Linked DNA regions of Homo sapiens. The protein of the gene in region 2 purifies or fractionates together with the protein of the main gene of each other region. This does not show direct contact. Each region holds a gene or a part of one and is shown on either strand. Other genes may lie near its edges.

Region 1 (7,664 bases), on a different chromosome or scaffold from region 2:
ACATACCTCCTTCTCCAGAAAACTTTCAAGTTCACAGCCTTGCGTTGTCCATCTTTAATACACTTAGTTGTTGGTTTTAATAATTAAGGAAACAGGACCTACCTATACCTGTGCCAACAGGGGGCACTATCCCTCTGTAAAGAACAAATCAAAAAGTATTTTGTGTTGTAGCTGGAGGATCCAATGGTCTTGCTTTTGGCAAAAACTTGAAGAGGAGGGTGGTCTTTACATGTGTGGAAACCTTGAGTGGCCGAGCAAATAGCAAGAGAAATTGCTTAGTGGCTTTTAAAATTTGAAATATAATTTTACTTTTTATTTTTACAATACAGTGTACAGTATGACATCTCAAAATAACAGTGCAGATACAGGAAAAGAGTACAAAGGGGGATTAACAACAGATGTCAGAAGGTTACCTTTATTAAGGCTAAATCCCTGCTTTATATTTTCCACACATTCACAAAATTACATTCAAATCATTCCTTATTGATCCTTATTTCTTAGGCCATGAGAAAAGGAAGATAATCCAGACATTAGATTTTCATAGAAAGCAAATCTGGATTAGTCTAAATAATATTCTCCTTCCATTTGTTCTGACAACGAAAATTTGAGAAACAAAGTTATGCACCAACCTAAAACTTCCTTATTTGGATTTTCCAAGTACATAGCATTAGTTATTGATATCATTTCTATATTAAATGGTAAGACCTCCCCCACACTGGGGTCTCCAGTCAGAACCACAGAGGGACAGGAAATGGAATTGGCCAGAGTGGCTGTACAACTAGGTGTACAGCAAGGCTTTTTTCCATATTCTTTTGTGGAGGTCAGCAACAACTCAGTTTTCACTTTAAGGACTATGTTGAATATCAGCACATCCTCATCACTAGGATTTAGAAAAGTTTAGGACATTTCTATCTACCATTGCTGATGAGGAAGGGGAGAATGATTGATAGACTTCACTGACCTTGAAATATTTATCATCTCAGACTTCCTAAAAGTATGGCATGGCATCACCTCTGCCTTGATACAAGATCTGCTTGTTAAAGCCATGTTCCTGAATCTTGACAGCACATGGCCCTAGTGCAGGCCTAATGTCTACAGCAGGCACAAGAGCCACTCACTGACACTACCTACACCCTCACTCTAACTTAACATGAACTGCCAATAGTTTAGCTCTTGGAGTTGAAAACAGTTGTCAGTTACAATAAGCAGGATCACAAAACTCCATTGTCAACCATAGACTACACTTCATTCCTGAGACGTAAACTGGAAAACTGAAAAGATTAAGTAAGTGCTAAGTATATTCCTTAGTTTTTAATGCTAAAAATCGGTGTGACCTGTGAAATTTCCTGGCTCTAAACTGGAGTATTTCAGATCTGAAGAGACAGTAGTGTATGGCATTCCTTCCCTCAACCCAAGAATGTTATTTTCTTCCTAAGGAACATTATCTTGAAAATATTTCCACATAAAACACTCTCCAGCCAACTTAATAGGCCATGCAAATTTGAACAGAAAAAGGCGACATATAAACTGTCTACATTTGTTCAAATAAAATTATGTAGAAGAAAAAAAATCAATCAAATATGTACATGACACAAATTACTCCTTAAACATAATTGCTTATGTTAAATTAAATGATGTCAGTATTATTCCAGTGTTTAGCTCTGGGTATAGGAAATGCTGTAGCTAAAGTCACCATAAAAATAAAATCAAGGCATTCACATTTGAGGTTGTTTGTTACACATCACACTATCCTAAAGGCTTGAAAAGACTGCAAATTAAGTTTCCATGCCAATTATATACGTTGAATTTTAAAGCTACAGCTATAGAGACAGTACGAAAATCCTATTAGCTTAAATGTTTCTTTTATGATTTACCAAGCTGTTGCATTCTCGTCATAAGAGGCAGACCTTGTTAGGTTAAAAACCTATTTCTATATATTTAATACCTTTTTCTCTCCAATATTCTTTTCCTAAAATGTTCAAATGACTTTCAGGTCTTCCCTTCCTTTTGATCTTAAAGTCAACTGTCATAATATTTCCCAAGGACATATATAATTTTATTCTAATGCTAAACAAGTGTTTTCAATGACCATTTGTTGATCTATTAAATATTAATATACAGTACAGCAGCTATATTCATCAACAGAATTCCAGTTTATTACCTATATATACGTAGCACAGTCATAGGATACTGTGCTCATACATAAAAATGCAAAAACTGTCAAATGTGCTATCCTCCCATGTATACAAAAAACTATTAGCATCATGAGGAAGAAACTTTTTAAGTCAATACAGATTATAATGAACACCTGCCATTCATAAAAATGTAACATACATTCTATTATACTATGCTGATGAGGGAAGGGAAGCTAAGTGAGTAAATCAGTTGAGACGACTTAAGAAAAAAATTCAGGAAATCATAATTTAAAAAAGATCAGCATATTTTGTATACCTTTAAGTAGATTAGAGTGTGTTGAGTGTAGAGTCTGATCCACAAAGTCTGAGCAAAAAAACTGGTGCTTCTAATGGAATGTTTTTTGTTTTTTTAAGAATCAAAAGACATATAAATGAATTCAAGCCTAACAAAGTAGCTTCAACCCAAAGTGGCACCATTTTGTTTTTTATTTTTCCTTTTTAGGAAAGTATCTCTGATGACTAAATTAGTTTCCTAAGCAAATACTGCCTTGCCCAGTGCATAGAAGCACAGTCCCTCTGCTCAATATTCCCAATGAAGTCATTTAAGTGTTAATGATTTAACACTTAAGAATAATCACATCAATATTTGTGTGAGACATGGACGCTTGTGTATACAAGTTTTTCACAGAGATACAACTAAGCAGAAAGGGTTTAGGTGAAAACAAAAGGTTTTAACAGGACAAAATGGAATGCTCTGTTGAAAGCTTCCATTTAGAATCCCAAAATGAGGCAAGAACCGCTAAAGCCATGTATAGAGAATAAAGGATGCCATGCACAAACTGCCTAAGGGAACTGTCGTCTCACTAATTCAAGAGATCTAAGAACAGATCTACAGCTTATACTGCTGCCTTCCATCTTATCCTCAATCTTGCTGCAGTGTCGGGCAGTCCTCCTATTGGCAGTTTTTGCCAGATCAAGTCCAACATGCCACAGAATGGATGTTTCTTTCACCTCAGCCAAGTGGATGGTACCCACTGAGGTTCAGTATCAAGTTTGTTAATTAACCTAAGCAATTCCTGATAGGCTTTATCAAGATCGGAATTCACAATTGCCGTATCAAAGTAGTGGCCATTGTTCTGCTCCATCTCTCTTGTCTTCTCAATGATTTCTCTCAACTCTTCAGGCTGCAAACAGAAGATAAAAACTGTGAGATAATTCCTTTCCTAACCAAATAATATAGGATGAGTCAGAGATGGCCAAAGAACAAGGAGCGACCTTCATAGCTTTCCTTCTGTCTCTCCCAACCTCAGGAGCTCCTTTCCAACCCTGTCACGGCCACAATGGTTACCTTTGCTTTGGCATCTTCACGACTCATATTATGAACCATCTGGGACTCAATATATCCTGTTTTATACCACTATTTAGGTTTTCACATATTTTGTCTTATCTCACCAACAAAACTACAAGCTTCAAGAACACACACTGTTTCCCTACAAACATTTGTTTTCAAACATTCTAGACACTATAACCTCTTCCTAATAGTAACATCTGTAATATGGAGTGAACCTTTCTGGTTGGAGCAAGGACCTAAAATGCCATTTACTTTTGGCTCTAGTAAAGAGCCCTTGCCCTATACTATCTGCTGCAGAGAGTTAAAAGTATCCTACCAGAGTTTGGGAAACTATATAGAGTAGCCTACTTTAAAATACTGACTGAAGGAAAGGGCCATTTTACAAAGATAAGCAGGCAGCAAGGCTATGTGCAAAACTTATCCTGAACCCTCTAATTATCAGGCACATGGGTTCAAGAAAGTGAAACTCACCTCAAATCACCCCTGCCAATGAAGACAACTAACTTAAACTCAAGACAAAATGTCTCAGATATAAAAGTCACACATCAATACTATATTGGACCCATAGTACAAAACAATTTATATCATTCAACTGTTTGAACTTCTGTAACAGTAAGAAAACATATTAAAAATATGACAACTCTGGCTTGTCCTGAGGCAGTTTCTTGCATGACTCTCATTCTGGAATGTTGTACATCTGAATATGGCACACAGAATCCTTTGTTCCCAGCAGGGAATCTACTTCACCACTGTAACTGAACACACTGACATTTTTGCTAAAACTTATGTCTACCGTAAGCTCAAGATTATTGGAAGAACATTCTAGGACTCCACAGAGAACTGAAACTTTGTGGTATTGGAGTTGAAATGAAAATGATAAAGCCCGAATCCACCTAGTTTTTATCAAATTTAAGGCATTGTTATTCCATTTTGTGCCAAAATGGCTTATATCACTTATTTAGTACTTCATGTCTGAAGTTCTCTTTCAAATTACAATCCACGACTAAGATGAAACAAAATGTTTTAGCTCAAAATTTTTAGCTGAACTAGGCAAAACTGACAATAAGTTCATACTGCTAGATAGCCACTCTCAAGCCTTCATACTAGCAGAACAGATTCAGAGATTCAGAATGCAACTAGATAACCGGTTGGTTACATTTTGTAACGCCATCATTTTCTTAGCACAATTTTATAGAGTTAAAATTGAAAATCTGTTTTACTTCAGCACTTCTATCATTGAGTAATAAAGCACTATTAGAAATACCAATACCAGCGCAGGGGCTCCCCCGCCTGTAATCTCAGCACTTTGGGAGGCCAAGGTAGGTGGATCACATGGGGCCGGGAGCTTGAGACCAGCCTGGCCAACAGGGCAAAACCCCGTCTCTATTAAAAATACAAAAAATAGCCAGGCGTGATGGTGCACATCTGTAATCCCAGCTACTTGGGAGGCTGAGGCATGAGAATCACTTAAACCCAGGAAGCAGAGGTTGCAGTGAACCAAGATTGTGCCACTGCACTCCAGCCTGGGCGACAGAGTGAGACTCTGTCTCAAAAAAAAGAAAGAAATATCACAGGAGAAAAAAACTTAAGTAGAATAAATACAATCAGATACACCATCCTCTACACCAAAAACTGTGGAATACACATCCTAACAGGTGTGCACAGAACATTCACCAAGAAAGAACAGATGTTGGGCCATAAAATAAGGCTCAACAAATTTGAAAAGACTGACATCTTTCAGGGTCTGACCACCTGGAATTATAAATCAGTTAAAATCTTTTTCACATCTCCAAATAGGTGGAAACTATATAACATACTTCTAAATAACTCATGTGTTAAAGAGAAAAACAAGGAAGCGGGGTGCCGGGGGCTCAGGCCCATAATCCCAGCACTTTGGAAGGCTGAGGCAGGTGGATCACCTGAGGTCGGGAGTTTGGGACCAGCCTGACCAACATGGAGAAACCCCATCTCTACTAAAAATACAAAATTAGCTGGGCGTGGTGGTGCATGCCTATAATCCCAGCTACTCGGGAGGCTGAGGCAAGAGAATTGCTTGAACCCGGGAGGCAGAGGTTGCAGTGAGCAGAGATAGTGCCACTGCACTCCAGCCTGGGCAACAAGAGCGAAACCCCATCTCAAAAAAAAAAAAAAAAAAAATGAAGGGAAATTAGAAAATACTTCTAACAAAATGGTAACAAAAATACAATGCCAAAACTTACGGGATGCAACTAAAGAACTGTTTCGAGGGAAATTTATAATTTCAAATGCCTACATTTGAAAAGAAGAGTTTAAAAATTAAGCATTCATCTTGAGAAACTAAAGCAAGTGCAAATTATAGTCAAAGAAAGCATAAAAAGAAATGAATTAAATAGAAAAGAGACAATAAAGACAAATGCCCTCCAACTTATTTCTTTTGCTAAAGTGTCTGATTATTCCTTTTGATAATAATAATAATAATTATTATTATTATTATTTATTTCCTGGTTCCAGATTGTGTCTTTATTCCTCTTTCTGACAGACAGCAGAGCATTTGTCTGGCATATATTCTCTCTTACCACAATATAGATGATTTTCTGTGACTTTAACAATACATACAAGAAAAAAATCACATCTTTATGCCAATACCATTCTTTCACAATACTAGAAGAACAGATTCAGAGTACAATTACATAACTGGTTGGTTACATTTTGCATCCAGTGAGTAACACCATCATCTTCTTAGTTTCTATATCTATTTATTTATTTATTTATTTATTTATTTATTTATTTATTTATTTTTGAGACCAAGTCTTGCTGTGTTGCCCAGGCTGGAGTGCAGTAGCACGAACTCGGCCTCTTCAGTAGCCAGTACCACAGGCGTGCACCACCATGCCTGGCTAATGTTTTTTGTATTTTTAGTAGAGACAGGATTTCACTATGTTGCCCAGGCTGGTCTCGAACTCCTGGCCTCAAGTGATGCGTCCGCCGTATCTCAAAATAATAAGAGCTATTTATGACAAACCCACAGCCAATATCATACTGAATGGACAAAAACTGGAAGCATTCCCTTTGAAAACTGGCGCAAGACAGGGATGCCCTCTCTCACCACTCCTATTCAACACAGTGTTGGAAGTTCTGGCCAGGGCAATCAGGCAGGAGAAAGAAATAAAGGGTATTCAATTAGGAAAAGAGGAAGTCGAATTATCCCTGTTTGCAGATGACATGATTGTACATGTAGAAAACTCCATCGTCTCAGCCCAAAATCTCCTTAAGCTGATAAGCAACTTCAGCAAAGTCTCAGGATACAAAATCAATGTGCAGAAATCACAAGCATTCCTATACATCAATAACAGACAAAGAGAGAGCCAAATCATGAGTGAACTCCCATTCACAATTGCTACAAAGAGAATAAAATACCTAGGAATCCAACTTACAAGGGATGTGAAGGACCTCTTCAAGGAGAACTACAAACCACTGCTCAACCAAGTAAAAGAGGACCAAACAAATGGAAGAACATTCCATGCTCATGGATGGGAAGAATCAATATTGTGAAAATGGCCATACTGCCCAAGGTAATTTATAGATTCAATGCCATCCCCATCAAGCTACCAATGACTTTCTTCACAGAATTGGAAAAAACTACTTTAAAGTTCATATGGAACCAAAAAAGAGCCTGCATTGCCAAGACAACCCTAAGCCAAAAGAATAAAGCTGAAGGCATCACCCTATCCAACTTCAAACTATACTACAAGGCTACAGTAACCAAAACAGCATGCTACTGGTACCAAAACAGAGATACAGACCAATGGAACAGAACAGAGCCCTCAGAAATAATACCACACATCTACAACCATCTGATCTTTGACAAACCTGACAAAAAGAAGAAATGGGGAAAGGATGCCCTATTTAATAAATGGTGCTGGGAAAACTGGCTAGCCATATGTAGAAAGCTGAAACTGGATCCCTTCCTTACACCTTATACAAAAGTTAATTCAAGATGGATTAAAGACTTAAATGTTAGACCTAAAACCAGAAAAACCCTAGAAGAAAACCTAGGCAATACCATTCAGGACATAGGCATGGGCAAGGACTTCATGACTAAAACACCAAAAGCAATGGCAACAAAACTCAAAATTGACAAATGGGATCTAATTAAAGAGCTTCTGCACAGCAAAAGAAACTACCATCAGAGTGAATAG
Region 2 (7,934 bases):
CTGAATCCTCATTCTCCATAAGGCCCGGAGGAATGTGGGCTAAGAAGCAGAGTCTTCTGGGGGTGCCGGTGCTCTCACAGCTCTCCTCTCCCCTGGGGTCCTCCTCCTGAGCTCCTGGGACCAGATGGTCAATGGGAATGAGTGTCTGGCTGGGGAAAGGGACGGAGCAGCGGTTGACGGGGCTGCTGAAATGGCTGAGAGTGGCACAGGGCAGAGGAGGGGAGAGAATGGCTCAGAGTCCTGAAGCACCACCTCCTTCAGATCAGTATCTCCACCATGTCTGACAAGTCCTGGACTCTGGATGTAGCTACAGAGTCTGGAGACAGACAAGAACACAGGCACATGCCAATGAGTGTTACTAGATTGCTTTTAAAATCCTGGCACATTTGAAAGACAAAGATCGTTCTTCACCAACTTTTCCCACCTCTGCTGCCCAGGTTCCCAGAACTCGGCCAACCAAGCACAATGCTCTGCCCCCTTTCAGTGCTCAGCCCAGCCCACCAACCTCCGATGTGTAGGATGCATTTGTTTCTAACTTTGAACTGGTTGGAGGGCTTAGAGAGAGCAATGGAGAGCCCTGAGGGAGGCAGGCTGCAGCATTCTTTTCATGCCTGTGGTTTTCTGAGATCATGAGGCACAGGCAAATATGCAAAGGCCAATGTGAAAGGGGAGTGGAAAAAGAAATGGCATCTTCTCAGATTTCTCCTTCCCGGACTCTTTAAACAGGCTTCCAGAGTGCCATCGGCATGACTTGCGAGCTCCATTCTCTTGGATAATCAAATTGGAAATTAACTATGTAGGGAAGACCATGAAAGAGGAGCTAAAGTGCCTCCCATCTGGTTGCTTTCTTTCTGAATTCTGGATCTGCCTCTAATCAGGGTTTCCAATTTCCCTATTCATGCAACCAGCCATCCCTCATGTTCACATTGAGGTGGGCCAGGCACCCTGCTCACCTCTGGCTATGCACGGCTCCCCATGGAGTGCGGGCAATGACCCGGAGGGGGTCTGGGAAGAAAAGGCCTTGTGTTCCAGTTCACACCCCAGTGCCCCCTCGGCCCTACCTAGCACAGAAGTGGGGTCAGGAGGACTTACCCAGAGAGGCTGCTCTCTGGCTACTGCTGCACCCCAGAAGGCTGTCAGGCTCCGGTGGCAGGCAGGTGGAGGTGCTGTCTGGGGGGCCCTCAGTCTGGGTGCTCCCATCTCTGCTCCCGTGTTTGGCATGGGCAGCAGGGGGAGCTGTGACCACTGGCTCCTCTGTGGGTGCTCTGTCTGCTGGAAAGGTAGGTGGATGGTTATTGCCATGCCTGTAAGATGTGGCCCTGGTGAAGGACACTCTAAGTTAACTGTCCCTGCTGGGGATTCAAGGTGGAGTGGGCTGCTCTTGATTTGCAAGAACTTTAAGACTAAAAATGCTCCTATTTTCAAATGGGAATAACTACCAGATTGGATTGGCTTCCAAATGTTTTGGGTGGTGGGACCCTTCCTTATAGATTAAATCTTCTAGAGTTTCTGTGGCATCTGCTTAGAAGGAAGAGTGGAGGGAGCTTGCATACAAGGTGTATCTGCACAGGAAGCTCTATTTTTCTTAGTTCAGTGGCTGGGGCTGAAGCATGATAGAATTTATGGTGATGGGGACTAAGTACCCCTCTTCACACTGGCAGGAGAGCCTTGCGCTGTAGAGTCACTAGAGGCAGAGAATAAGCCAGCTCCCCTGGAAGAGGGTCAGGAAGCCCTGGCTCCTATAGCCTCAGTTCTGGGAGGAAAGGTCTGGCAATCTGTGTTCAGGCCCAGGAGAAATTACCTCTCAATCTATCCCAGCAGTAGCCTCCTCTTACCTGTAGTCAGCCGAGCAGGGGCGTCTGCTGTTTGTCGCTCACTAGAAGAGAGCCCTTGCCAGCCCTGGGTTCCTGCTGCCGCAGCCGCGAAAACAGATGGCACCGACTTGGCAGGCCGCAGGGAGCCCTGGATGGCCTTGCCAGGGTCTCTCCTGGAGCGCTGCTGAAGGACCTTGATCACTGCATCCTTCTCCAGGATCTGGGCATGGAGCACCTTTAACCTGAGGGGTGAGAGGCCATGCCCACATTGTCAGACCCACAGATCCAACAGCCTCCACCCTTCCTGCCTCATAGGAGTTAGAGGAAAAGCCCCCCCCAACTCCCCCAACCCTGCCAGGCTGGATCCTTCTGTGCTTGTAGCAGGGACCCAGAGAGGGCTTAGAAATGGCACCACAGCTCTGGAATTTGATGCTCTTAGAGCCCAGGCTCTGAAAACCACCAGTGCATAAGGCCCTGGGCCCTTCTCACACCAGCAAAGGCAGGCCATTAAGGATGGGTTCCAGATTCATCAGATGATAGTGGCGGCACAGCCCTCATCCTGGAGGGCGGCACTCCGGAGAGGGGAGGCAGGGCCCAAGCACTGGATGGCACCCAACACCTCCACAGTAAGAGTCTCCTGGGCAGACCAAGGACTCGGTATTTCTGGGCAAATGCATGTTTACAGTGCCTGGTGTGCCAATCATGCAGGTTCAGCTCAGAAGCAGGAGGGACTGCTGAGCTCTATGGGGAAAGGGGCCTGTTTATCAGGGATCAAGGGCAGGGCAGTGACTGGACATTGCCACCCACCCCCCCAACCTCAGGTGCCTGGCCTGCAATGCCGAACCTGCTTTCCATCTCCTGATGCCTGTGGCCACCAGTGAGCAGACCCTCATTGAAGCTGCTGCTGGGTGAGGGCTGGGGGGAATGTCGGATGAGAGTGGTGTCACGCTGAGCAGCAGCCGTGGCAGCCGCATCCATGGCAAACTGCCTCATGGCACGTTCCTCCAAATACTTCTGCTCCCACTTGGTCATGTCGGCCTCCAGCGCCAGGATCTGCTCCTCCTTCTCTCGCAGTTGTTCTGACAGTCGCAGGGCGCTGAGCTCTGGAGACCCACCACTGCCACTGCTACCACCTGGGGCACCTGCCTGTCTCTGCAGAGCAAGGAGTAGAGACCGTGGTCAAGGGTGCAGGTTGGGGTGTGGCAGCCACTGGTCTTCGCCTCCACACGACTGTCACTTGTACATGTACGTGTTCAGCCATACACAGCATACATTTCCCCATCCTTCCTCTACCGAAATGGGGATACAGCACAGGTCCCCATACCCCTGCCCTGAATCCTAGGGCAAGGGCATAGAGACCAGACAGATAATCCTCCAAACTGGCAAAGGGGGTGCTATCAATAATTATACTGGGAAAACTGGTGTACATTAGAACAGAACTGGGCAAACCAGGGGGTTCAGTCACACTACCTCTGTGGCAAGGGTAGGTTTGGGAGTGGAGAAATAACTCTATTTGGTTTGTAAACACCAAGAGTTGTTTACACAGAAGTCCGAAGTGAGGCTAAGCACAGTGGATCTGGACAACCATCTTTCCTCCCAATCTTGGGGAGGCATATAAAAGCTGGCTGGTGGCCAGACGCAGTGGCTCATGCCTGTAATCCCAGCACTTTGGGAGGCCAAGGTCGGCGGACCACGTGAGGTCAGGGGTTCAAGACCAGCCTGGCCAATATGGTGAAACCTCATCTCTACTAAAAATACAAAAATTAGCTGGGCGTGGTGGCGCACGCCTGTAGTCTCAGCTACTCGGGAGGCTGAGGCAAGAGAATGGCTTGAACCTGGGAGGTGGAAGTTGCAGTGAGCGTTCGCGCCACTGCACTCCAGCCTGGGCGACAGAATGAGATTCCATCTCAAAAAAAAAAAAGCTCGCAGGCCTTCTATATCCAGGTTCCTGACTTACTTTCTCTAGAGGTCAAGGACAACTAGCCCTGCTGCTGCCGAGGACAGGAGTCCCCCGAGGCTGGACATGGGCCAGGTGGCAGGGCCTCTACTAAGACAACGAGTGGAAGGGAGCACGCAGCAAAGGTGGAGCAGAGAGCAATCATCCTCGCCGCCTTCCAACGGGCCTGCAGCCTAGATCTAAGCAGGGGCTCCCGGGGCCTCAGCCCTGGCCTCCAAACCTACAGTCCCCGAGGAGGAAGGGAAGCCAACATCCTCAGATGCTGCCCTAGCCTGGAGACTTTCTCAGCTCACCTGCTGTGCACGCAGGGCCTTGAGTTCCTGCTCCAGGCGAGTCCGCAGACGCAGCTCCAGCTGCTCCCGCTTCTCACAGGCTGCCTGCAGCTGCCCGAGCGCCTGCTGCAGCCGCTCCACTTTCTCCACATAGGCCTGCTTCTTGCGCAGCTCCTCTTCGGCTCGAGCTGCCCGGCCCTGCGCATTGCCCAGAGCCTGCTCCAGCAGCTCGGCACGCCGCCGCTGGTCCTCGATGGCGCCGCGCAGCAGTGCCATCTCTCGCTCCAGCTTCTCTTGCTCCTGCTGCTGTTCGTAGCCTGTAGGGAGAAAGAGGCTTGATCAGTGACAGTGACCACGTTGGCTGGCCCCATTGCCTCCTGGGCTCAGTGCTGACCACTGGATGAGCACAGTTGCTTCTCATTCTCTCAAAAATAACAGGAATAAGGTACCACTATTAACCCTGTTTCATGGAAGAAGAAACCAAGGCTCATGTTAAGTCAGGAGTAAATGACAGAGCCCAATTCCAGGACCCTTGCAGTAACAACTGGGCTACCCTGCCTTTCTACTGGGACATACTGCCATGGGACAGCCCCAAACACCATCCACTTGTGCCAGGGGCACCATGTCTAAAACACATCCACAATATCCCTTGAACCTTGTGACGGCTCGAGACTGTTGAGGTAGGAACTGTGATGCCCATGTACAGATGAGAAAATAGAGACTCAGGTAGGCTGTGACATGGTCCTCCTTCCAGTGGGAGAATGAAAGAAGGGGGAACAGAACCACCATCGGCTGTCGGCACACCAGGCCCTTACACATCTTATTCCACGAATCCTCCAGCCCCTCCAGGGAGGATTTGGGATCCCCAACTTATAGGGGAGAAACATAGGAGGTGAATGGTGCTGCCAAATGGAAACCCCAGTTGGCCACACTACAAAGGCCCAGGCTGCCTCTGGCTACATGGTGAGGCGTTTGTACTTATAGGCCACCCAGAGCTCTGGGGCTCCTTCTGCAGACCCAGGCCGAGAGGTCCGTTGAGGGCTACATTTCCTTCCATGGTCTGAAAAGAACACTGAGATGTAAGCAACCAGGCTCAGAAGGAAATGCAAAGTCTGCAGTACAGTGAAAATGACTATGGCCCAAAGATTAGTGTGTAAGGGTCAAGCTATCCTGACTTTTAAATCATTTTGTTAATTGCCCAAAGAAACTGCTCAGAGGCCCTCTCCATAGGGCCAGGAGAAGCCCAAGCCAGACCACAGAGCCCTCCATCTGATGTTCTAGCCTTAAATCCACCTCCCAGGCACCTGCCCCTTGAGAGTCCCAGGCTGCCCCCTGAGGAGCAGGTCAGCTGCCTACCTTGCTGGAGAGCAGGTGGGGGGCAGGGCTATGGGCTCCCGCTAATGAACCTAAAGGCACTGTCTCTAGAACAGCATTCTGATTCAGTGGAATTTTCTGCCAGAGTGGAATTGTTCTATACGGCACCCTCCAATGCAGTGGCTACTAGACACACGTGCCACTGAGGACTGGAAATGTGGCTAGTAAGATGGGAGAACTGAATTTTAAATTTAATTTATTTTCATTAATTTCAATCTTTGGGCCACATGCAGCTAAGTACCTATCATATAGGACAGTGCAAGTTCTGGAACAGAAGGGTGAAGGCTTGAGACCTTGGCATGTGGAAGGGAGGATTCATTTACTCAGGTCCCTGGGGCAGGGCAGGGAGGACACAGAGGCAACTCAGGTTAGCTCTTGATTCATTTTGGATGTTTGAAGGCTGAGCCCAGGATGGTATCATTCTGTGGCATGGAGGAAAATACGAGGAAGTCCAATAATATTGAAACGGATGTGTTCATACTTCGCTGGCTTAACATCCATTGAGTGGGGTGTTAACATCCATTGAGGAGGGGCAGCCAGGTTGGGACTCAGGCAGGGAGGACCCTCCCCTAGTCCACCTGTGCGTTCAGTTTGCCCAGGGCCTGCATCTCATTTCAGCCTTAGCATGACTCTGTGGGGAAGGACTCTGTCTCATCTTATAGCTGGAGAATCTGGGGCGCAGGGAGAGAAGAAATATTCCCAAGGGGGTGGAGCTAACAGGCCAGCCTCAGGCCTCAAGGCCAGATCCCCAGGGGGCACTGCTGGCCTAGAAGGGCCAGAAGGGCAGTGCTGGGGGGCTGCGTGGCTTGCCTAGGAGGAAAAGCAGATGGCATTGGTGATAATGGCCACACTTTCCTAGTGTTGACTGACCCCAGATAAAAGGGAGGTCAATCAGACACCTCCCTTTGCAATAGCTACTAGGGAGCAAGGAAGAGCTGCTTGGGTTTCCTCAGCCCTGGGGGAGGAAGGGGCCGGAGGACCCAGCCCTCTGCTTCCAGAAGCTTCCTGCAGCCTTGTCCAACCTCTAAGGCCCTGGTGGGGGCTGGGAGGCTTTGAGCTCTGGCCATCCCCTACCAACAGGACCCTGATAAAACCTTGGGCCTGCGGGATCTCGGGAAGGAGAGCTCCTTAGTAAGAAATAAGTGGTCTGGGTGCGGGTGGGAAGAGGACGCCCGAAGGCCAGCGGAGGAGGGCAGGAAGGCAGGCGAGGCGCCGACGGGACCCGGGATGCGCCTTGGGCAGCGAGCGAGCCCCCACCTCCACGTTCCAGGCTCCCTTTGTGCTCACCCTCCCTCCTCCCAAAGCCGGGCGAAGGGCGCCAGGCAGCGCGCACGGGAGGGAGCGGCGGGGGGCGGGCCGGGAGCGGAACAGCTCGCGGCTCTGGAATGCCAGGCATCCAGGTCACCCGCGGCTGCAAGATTAATGGCTCCAGCGAGGAGCCAAGAACAGCTCGGCGCTCACTCGCTCCCCGGGGAGCGGAAACGCCTCCCGGCCGGCCCCCCTCTTCTCACCCACTAGCAAGCTCCCAGAAACCCGCCCCATGGCTTCCTTTCTTTGGCAGAGTCAGGCTCCAGAAGTCCGCCTTCCTCCACAGGCACCCTAATCTGCCGTGCCCTTGCAGCTTCTCCTCCCCAGACTCCTCAGGGAAACCCCAGGGCTGCCCCCTCCCCTTTCTCCCTCCTTCCCTTTGACTCCTTCCCAGAGACCTTAAGCCGCTGCCATCTCACCCCACCCAGCCAGAAGAGACCAGCCTACCTCCTGCCCCACCCTGTCAATTCCTTCAGTGCTGTGTTCCCCCATTCCCTGCCCTAGTCTTTGAACCCTCTTTGAAGGAAGATAGGGGTGCTGCCAGCCAGAGCTAAGTCCTCAAGCTGCTCCTCCATTTCTGCACCCCACACTACCCTTTGTGCCATTCACAGTAGGGTTCCTGTGAAGACTCAAAGCCATGTTTACCCAGCTACCAACCACTCCCATTCCACTTCTCTGCAAACACCTTGAACAGCACTAAAGCTCCTAGTAGGAGCTCAATAAATAACTGTTCTTAGTCTCTTCTGATTGCTAGAGCCTCCTGCTGCTGAGCTCAGGGCTCCCTTTGCCACCCACCCCATGTACCTCTTGAACTGCCCAATAGCTCCTTCACCTCTGGCTGGCTCTCCACCCCTGCCATCCCCACAGAGCCCCTCTCTCAGGCCACCGGGGCTCCTAATCACCGGTTTCTAGGGCCACCCCCGTTGTTCTTTTGCATCTGTGGGAACCTGCTCCTTTCTTAAGCTCACCACTTCCTTCCTGACCTCCCTGCCATGGTACCTTCCTGGGCCTGCTCCCATTCTCTCTTGAACATCTGCCAGTTGCTTAAAACACATCTGCTAATGAATGAATAAATGGACTAGTCAATGAACTTGCCCATTCTTCAAGGATGCTTAGACCGCCCCGTTTAGAATGCATCTGTTGGTTAAGGTCTAGGATCCCATTTTTGGCTGCCTCAGATGCCTCCACTTGGCTTGCTATGGCTCAGCT
Region 3 (7,664 bases), on a different chromosome or scaffold from region 2:
TAATCCCTTTTGATGTATATAAGTTCAGTATATGACAAATGTTTCAGTTCCCCCCCCCCAAAGAATCCAATCACAACCAAGACACACACACAAATCACTTCTCAGTTACACATCTGCATTTCTTTAACAAAACAGTAAGAGATACAATCATAGCGAAGAGGTCACCCGCACAATACATTATCAGCACACTGTCTAGAACACCTCATTTAAAGACACTCAGTAAAAACGTATTCACAGGACCTGCTGTGAATGGCAAGATATGGTAATTTTATAATAGAAGAACTCTGCTCATGCAGTACTCTCCACACACCAGACGTCGGAAATCACAGCCACATCATCACCTTGCTCACACTTCCTATTATACTAGATATGCAAAAAGCCAAAAAAAGCAGCTTTTAACATTATATCATTATATCACAATTTTGAAACATGGGAAAAAATAAAAAACAAAAACCATTGTGTGGATAAAATGGTCTCCGTGACATTGAGCAGAGTGTTATCTTTTTTTTTTTTTACATTATTGCACAGAGATTTCTCATCAATGTTCTTCAGTTTTTATGTCTTTTCCTAAATGTGAATAAGTGCTATGGATAAAATACAAATGTAGAAAATAACAGCAGCATGATTTGTCAAAGTTAATCCCTATAATTTAGTAAGAAAAAATGGATATAAACAAAATAAGTGCTCTTTCTAAACTGTACTAAATTTTCAAAAATATTGTTTTAATGCAGTGAAGGTCCTGAAAAGCCTATTGAAAGCGATGCTGAGTCCTGTTTTCAAAAGTGTCCTGTTTGGGTTTTCTTGGTGAAGAGCAGAATTTCAAGTGAAGTAATCGACGGACTAATTTAAAACAAAACAGCCCTCGGCTTCCCTATTGGCCTGTGAGGGCACCGGCTCCGGGACCCTGACCTGGGAGGCAGCGAGTGGTGGGGGTGCCTGGCCCCCATCTACACGTACACAGGCTGGCAGCCTTCAGTCTGATCCACCAGATCAGAGCTTTCTAAATCTGAGCTCTCAGCCTGTGAAGCTTCTGCTCCTGAAGGCTTTGGGCATCGAAAGGGGTAGCCATTGTCATCAAAGAACCTTCGGAAGGTGAATTCGTAAAATGCGTGCTCAGGATGCTTGTTATTGGGCGAGGTGAGTGTGTCCCAGGCCTTGGTGCTACCTTCGCTGGCATCGTTCCAAGGGCTTTCTTCATCTACGGGGTCGAAATTCGAGGTGTCCATGGGGTGGCTGATGGTGGGAACGTAGGGGGCTGGCTGCTTCCGGATGTCACTGGAGAAGTCAATGGCGCTGAAGAAGGGGTGGGCCTTCAGGTCATCGGCCCCATTCCGCCCCAGGCGGTGGTCTGCGGAGCAGCACAGCTTGGTGATGAGGTCCCTGGCCTCAGGGCTCAGCTTCACCTGGGCTGGAATGTGGAGCGTGTTCTCCCAGTTGATCACCTGAGGAAACAACAGAGCCAACAGGTTAGTTTCTCCTCACATCTTGGGCAGTTCTGGGACAGCGTGTGATGACGTGACTTTCAAATATGTTTAGTTTCACAATAGGAGAGGAGTTAGAATAGACACAAGCAGCAGTTGTTGATCTCAGCAGCCACAAAAAGTCAGTGTCATTTCAGTCGATGGCTCACAGCCTGAGGCCAGGATGACCAGTCAAATACAGACAAAAAGATACTGATTTTCTTCTATCAGAAATACTGTTTAGCCAAAGAATTTTGTGCTTTCCACAAAAATGAAGAGAATGATGGTCTACAAGTTCTTTCTTTCTTTTTATTTTTTTGAGATGGAGTCTCGCTGTGTTGCCCAGGTTGGAGTGCAGTGGTGCGATCTTGGCTCACTGCAACCTCCGCCTCCTGGGTTCAAGCGATTCTCCTGCCTCAGCCTCCCGAGTAGCTGGGATTACAGGCGCCTGCCACCACACCCGGCTGATTTTTGTATTTTTAGTAGAGACAGGGTTTCACCACGTTGGCCAGGCTAGTCCTGAACTCCTGACCTCAGGTGATCAGCTAAAGTTATTTCTTTAGCTATGGCAATGGCTTTCTGCAAACCATCATGACGCTCATTCAAATACTTATTGCGGTCAAAAAACGGCCAACTGGGGTTTTGAAAAACAAACAGGAAAAACTTCATAGGGAAGAATAAAGCTGACTGACCCCATGTGACCTTACATGCTCAACTGCACAAACCAGCCATCTGGACGTTCAGTAAATGCACTTGTTGTAGAGATGTGTCTACTGTGAAGACAAAACCTAGGGGACTTCTTTATTGTTTACACTTAGAATCAGGAGGAAACAAGGCCAACATGACTGGCTACCAGCTGGGGTGATGGGACAGCGGATAAGGCATGGAAGTTAGTGGGTGTGTGGGTGGTAGGCTTGGTTTGAACCTAAGTAGTTGTTTTCATAGAGCTAAAACTGTAGAGCTCCTAGAAGAAAACATAGGGTGAAATCTTCATGAACCTGAGTTTGGCAATGATTTCTTAGACATGCCACCAAAAGCACAGGGAATAAAAGAAAAAATAAATTGGACTGCATAAAAATTTAAAACTTTTGTGCATCGAAGGACATTACTGATAGCAAAAAGGCAACAAAATGGGAGAACAGATTTCAAAACATGTATTTGAAAAGGGGTTAGTACCCAGAGAAAATACAGAACTCCTACAACTCAACAACAATAACAAAACCAAATAAGTTGATTTAAAAAGGGTAATGGACTTGAGGAGATATTTCCAAAGATATACAAATGACCAATAAGGACATGAAAATAAGCTCAATATAATTAAACACTAGGGAAATACAACTCAAAACCACAATGAGATACCACCTTACATCCCCTAGGGTGGCTACTACTTAAAAAAAACAAAAACAGGAAAATACTTATTGAGGATGTAGGGAAACTGAACACTCAGTCACTGTTGGTGGGAATGTAAAATGGTGCAGCCACTATGGCAAACAGTTTGGGAGTTCCTCAAAAAGTTAAACACAGAACGACCATATAATCCAGTGGGATATAAACCCACTTTCTGGTTTATATCCAAAAGAACCGGAAGCAGGGACTCATACAGTGGAATTATTATTCCACCTTAAAAAGGAAGCTACAACAATGGATGAACCCTGAGGACATTACGCTAAGTGAAATAAACTAGACACAAAAAGACAGATACTGCATGACTCCACTTACAAGAAGTCCCGAGGCCAGGCACAGTGGCTCACACCTATAATCCCAACATTTTGGGAGGCTGAGGTGGGTGGATAACTTGAGGTCAGGAGTTTGAAACCAGCCTGACCAACATGATGAAGCCACATCTCTACTAAAAATACAAAAATTAGCTGGTGTTGTGGCAGGCACCTGTAATCCCAGCTGCTTGGGAGGCTGAGGCATGAGAACCCGGAAGGCAGAGGTTGCAATGAGCCAAGATTGTGCCACTGCACTGCAGCCTGGGATACAGAGCAAAACCCTGTCTCAAAAAAAAAAAAAAAAAAGTCCTAAGCATAACCAAACTCACAGAGACAGGAAGCAGAAGAGAGGCGAGCAGGTGCTGAAAAGGAGAGTGGGGAGTTTCTGTTTAATGGGTTTGGGACGATTAACACATTTGAAAATAGAGGGTGGTGATGGTTGCACAATATTGTGAATGTACTTAATGTCACTGAATTATACACTAAAATAATTAAAAATGGTAAATAATTAAAATAATTATTAAATAAATGGTAATTAAAATAATTAAGATGGTAAATTTTAATTTACCATTAAAATAATTAGATGGTAAATTTTAATTTACCATTAAAATAATTAGATGGTAAATTTTAATTTACCATTAAAATAATTAGATGGTAAATTTTATGTTATGTATATTTTACCAGAATAAAAAAATCTGAATTATCATGTGGGCAATTTAGTGAGTAGCTCAGCCATTCAATTAGGGCGCAGATAATGCCAGATTCCAATTTTACTGTTCCTAGAGTGAAACTAAGCCTTACTTTAGGGTTTTTCGATTTCTCTTTTTTCTTTTTTTGAAACAGAGTCTCGCTCTGTCATCCAGGTTGGAGTGCAGTGGCGTGATCTCGGCTCACTGCAACCTCTGCCTCCTGGGTTCAAGCGATTCTCCTGCCTCAGCCTCCCAAGTAGCTGAGACTACAGGCGCCCGCCCCCATGCCAGGCTAATTTTTTGTATTTTCAGTAGAGACGGGGTTTCACTACGTTGGCCAGGCTAGTCTCGATCTCCTGACCTCGTAATCTGCCCGCCTCCGCCTCCCAAAGTGCTGGGATGACAGGCATGATCCACCACGCCCAACCTTACTAGACAGATTTTCTAATTAAAGTTATTAATTTAGGCTCCCTGGCCTAATAACCACATGCCCTGGTGGCTCACATGACCACCAGGGCATGTGAAAATTCCAAGGACTGTGTGTCAGTTGGTATGTCCACAGAAGACTGCAGATTCTTAATTTCAATTCTCAGTTCAACCCTTAGTAACTCATTTCAGAAAGCAAATGGCTGTCATTTTAAAACTAATAATTTAGTATTAAATGACTGACAATTATTTAACTACTTTGAATGAATATTAGGAATATGCACAACTAGCCTGACCACATAGCTGACAGTTTGCGAACAATGATATAATATCCAAATAAAGAAACTGCTTTCTTTAGATACAGTTGACCCTTGAACAACACAGTTTGAGGGTCACTTACACTAGCATTTTCTTCCACCTTTGCCATCCCTGAGACAGCAAGGCCAATGCCTCCCCTTCCTCAGCCCACTCCACATGAAGATGACAAAGATGGAGACCTTTATGATGATCCACTTTCAATTATTAAAATAGTAAACCTATTTTCTCTTCTTTATGATTTTTTTTCTTTAGACAGAGTCTCACTCTGTCACCCAGGCTGGACTGCAGTGGTGTGATCTCGGCTCACTGCATCCTCTGCTTCCTGGGTTCAAGTGGTTCTCCTGCCTCAGCCTCCTGAGTAGCTGGGATTACAGGTGCACACCACCATGATGGACTAATATTTTGTATTTTCAGTAGAGACGGGTTTCGCCATGTTGCCCAGGCTGGTCTTGAACTCCTGACCTCAGGTAATCTGCCCACCTTGGCCTTCCAAAGTGGTGGGATTATAGGCATGAGCCACTGCGCCCAGCCTATGATCCTCCCAAAGTAGTGGGATTACAGGCATGAGCCACTGCGCCTGGCCAGCATTTTCTGTTCTCTAGCTTGCTTTATTGTAAGAATACAGGATCTAATACATATAAAATACAAAATATGTGTTCATTGACGCTATGTTACTGGTAAGGCTTCCAGTCAACAGGCTATTAGTAAAGTTTTTGGGGAGTTGAAAGTTATGCAGATTTTTGACTGTGCAGGGGGTTTGGCACCCCAAACCCCTCATTGCTGAGGGGTGAACTATAGTTCCTGGAGTTCCGTGTGTTCTCTGCAGGGCAGGTGTGGGTGGGGGAGACAGTGGATCAGCAGCACACCTTTGCTGATCCTCACTGTTCTTGCCTGGAAATAGCAAGGTGGCAGATGGCCAAGGGTTTAATAGAATTTCAGATATTAAAATGGGTCCAATTCCATGGCTTTGCTTATCAAAATAGAAAATTTAAAAATAGATAATTTAAAAAATAATGAGATTATTTTTAAAAATCCCATCCTATACAACTGCCATTCCTACCCTACTCAGAATAAGAGGGCAAATGCTGACCAAAGATTCATGGGTACATGAGCAAATCAGATGTCTACAGCAAGCAGATGCGTGGTTCCTCTCACATTACCTTCAGCTGGGTTTCTGTGGGAGTAGGTGCCAAAAAGGGCGGCTGCCCCACCAGCATCTCGAAGAGAATCACTCCAACACTCCACCAGTCACAGAGTTGAGTGTACCCTGCAAGACAAAGTTCACTCAATCCCTACACAGGCATGAATTCTCCTCCGAGGTGAATTTCATTAAGATGCTGAACATACAGATTTCCTGTTAAGTGGGAAAGCGCGTTGAAGCATCGCACTGTGCGCAAGATGGACCTATGTAAGTACCTGGATACTACTGGGTGGGGTGGTGGGGGGCGGTGGCCATGGCCGCTTAGGTTTTTGTATTTTTAATCATTGTAATAAGAAAATACTTTTTAATTTAAAAAGATTATTTTTATTGTTAGCAAATAGTTACTAGCCAGAATTTTATGTTCTTAAAGATCACAAACAGAGGCACCAATTAAAATAACAGAACTGAAAAACATAAAGTGCTATAACCTGTGAATAGTCAGGTGAGGGTCAAGGGAGGCTTCTAAGTCAGTTTTGGATGAAGCTGAAGAATACGGAGATGAGGAGGAGGTGGGCAAAACCCACCGGACAATTCACTGTAAGCCAAACACTCCTTGTGTGAGGCCCCTACGGAGCCGGGCCTTCCTCACGGGGCTCCCAGCTGTGCTGGGTCAGGGCTGGCCTCTGGGAGGCTGTAGGCTAGGCTCGTTTACCTCTTATTTTCTCCCACTTTTCCTTCAGAGCCTCATGACCCATCAAGCCAGGATCGTCTTCATGTCACCTAATCCTTGCTAAGTATAAACTGGGATGTTAAGAGGTCAGTCTGCGGGTGCCTGCAGCTGCATATGCCAGGGTAGCCCCCTCAGGCCCCTCTGCTATCTCTCCGTCCCACCTCTTCCTGTCCAAGTTTGGCAACAGAGGCTGCAGAAAAACCCCAAGCAATGGTTTCTTGAGAATGCTGCACGTGGTAGAGGGAAGTAGACCTTCACTGGGCACCAAGGTTATTCACAACCTCTCAAGGTCGTTATTGCTATGTCTGTGGTCTGAGTAGTTAAGTAACTTGTGCTGGATTACCACAGCTAGCAAAGAAAACCCAGACTTGAACTGAGTCTGGCTGGCTCCAAAGGACTTTAAACAACATGTGATGGCAGGGGCTGCCTGTCTCTGGATTAATTACACCCCATTGTCACTGTGGACCATGCAGGATCACTGAAGGATTCCTCCTATACTGAACCAGATGTTGCATTTGACAGAATGAAGCATCCATCCAGGAGGCAAATGTTATGAGCACTAGTCATTTTACACAACTGGCACCTGCCACTTTTGCTTATGGTCTAGCAGGGAGAATGAGAGAAAAAGGATCTTCCAACGCTGTCACATAAGCACCCAGCTGCACACGGCACAACTCAGCCAGGAGCCTGAGACAGAAGTTAAAGCTAGAGCCCGGAAATGTGTGGTCTGGGCAGACTGAGCAGAGGTCCTGTGGCCCTCAGAGTGGTTTCCATCATCTGACTGTGAAAATCAGGGCTGGAGTCATTCCCTTGGGTCTAGGTAGAGCCCGAGGGCCAGCAGACACTGGTCTAATGGTGCATGTCTTCCAACCCCCTGAAGCAAGAGCACTTCCAGGACAGGAGGGAGGCTTGTATGTTGCAGAAATTAGTAGCTTTCAGGCTTCTATGAGGACAAAAATATGACTGGAAGCATTAGGTCCTTGGAAAGCTAGAGCCAGCGAGACTCAGCTCACGTCTGAAGGGAAGGAGACCTCCTGCGGGGTGGCTGGCCATGGCGCATGTACCTTTGCGGAGGAGCACCTCGGGTGCGATGTAGTTTGGAGTCCCCACCAGTGAATGTGCCAGGCACCTCTGGTGCTGCTTCCGCGCCCTCTGCTCTAGGGTCTTCAGCCTGTCCCCACACCG

Evidence for each region.
Region 1: the proteins of AMOTL2 (region 2) and PALS1 purify together in Homo sapiens (affinity purification with mass spectrometry; 4 studies listed by BioGRID and IntAct, with this or other methods). This does not show direct contact.
Region 3: the proteins of AMOTL2 (region 2) and LATS2 purify together in Homo sapiens (affinity purification with western blotting; 3 studies listed by BioGRID). This does not show direct contact.

What each region holds. Positions count from the first base shown.
Region 1 is NC_000014.9:67,328,435-67,336,098, reverse strand, and holds the end of PALS1 (protein PALS1), read right to left. Parts: intron 3,320-7,664; coding exon 3,143-3,319; 3' UTR 38-3,142; downstream 1-37. UniProt on the Homo sapiens protein: Plays a role in tight junction biogenesis and in the establishment of cell polarity in epithelial cells.
Region 2 is NC_000003.12:134,357,448-134,365,381, forward strand, and holds part of AMOTL2 (angiomotin-like protein 2), read right to left. Parts: intron 4,361-7,934; coding exon 4,065-4,360; intron 2,967-4,064; coding exon 2,659-2,966; intron 2,057-2,658; coding exon 1,836-2,056; intron 1,273-1,835; coding exon 1,093-1,272; intron 317-1,092; coding exon 258-316; 3' UTR 1-257. UniProt on the Homo sapiens protein: Regulates the translocation of phosphorylated SRC to peripheral cell-matrix adhesion sites. Required for proper architecture of actin filaments.
Region 3 is NC_000013.11:20,973,923-20,981,586, forward strand, and holds part of LATS2 (serine/threonine-protein kinase LATS2), read right to left. Parts: coding exon 7,544-7,664; intron 5,876-7,543; coding exon 5,769-5,875; intron 1,443-5,768; coding exon 948-1,442; 3' UTR 1-947. UniProt on the Homo sapiens protein: Negative regulator of YAP1 in the Hippo signaling pathway that plays a pivotal role in organ size control and tumor suppression by restricting proliferation and promoting apoptosis.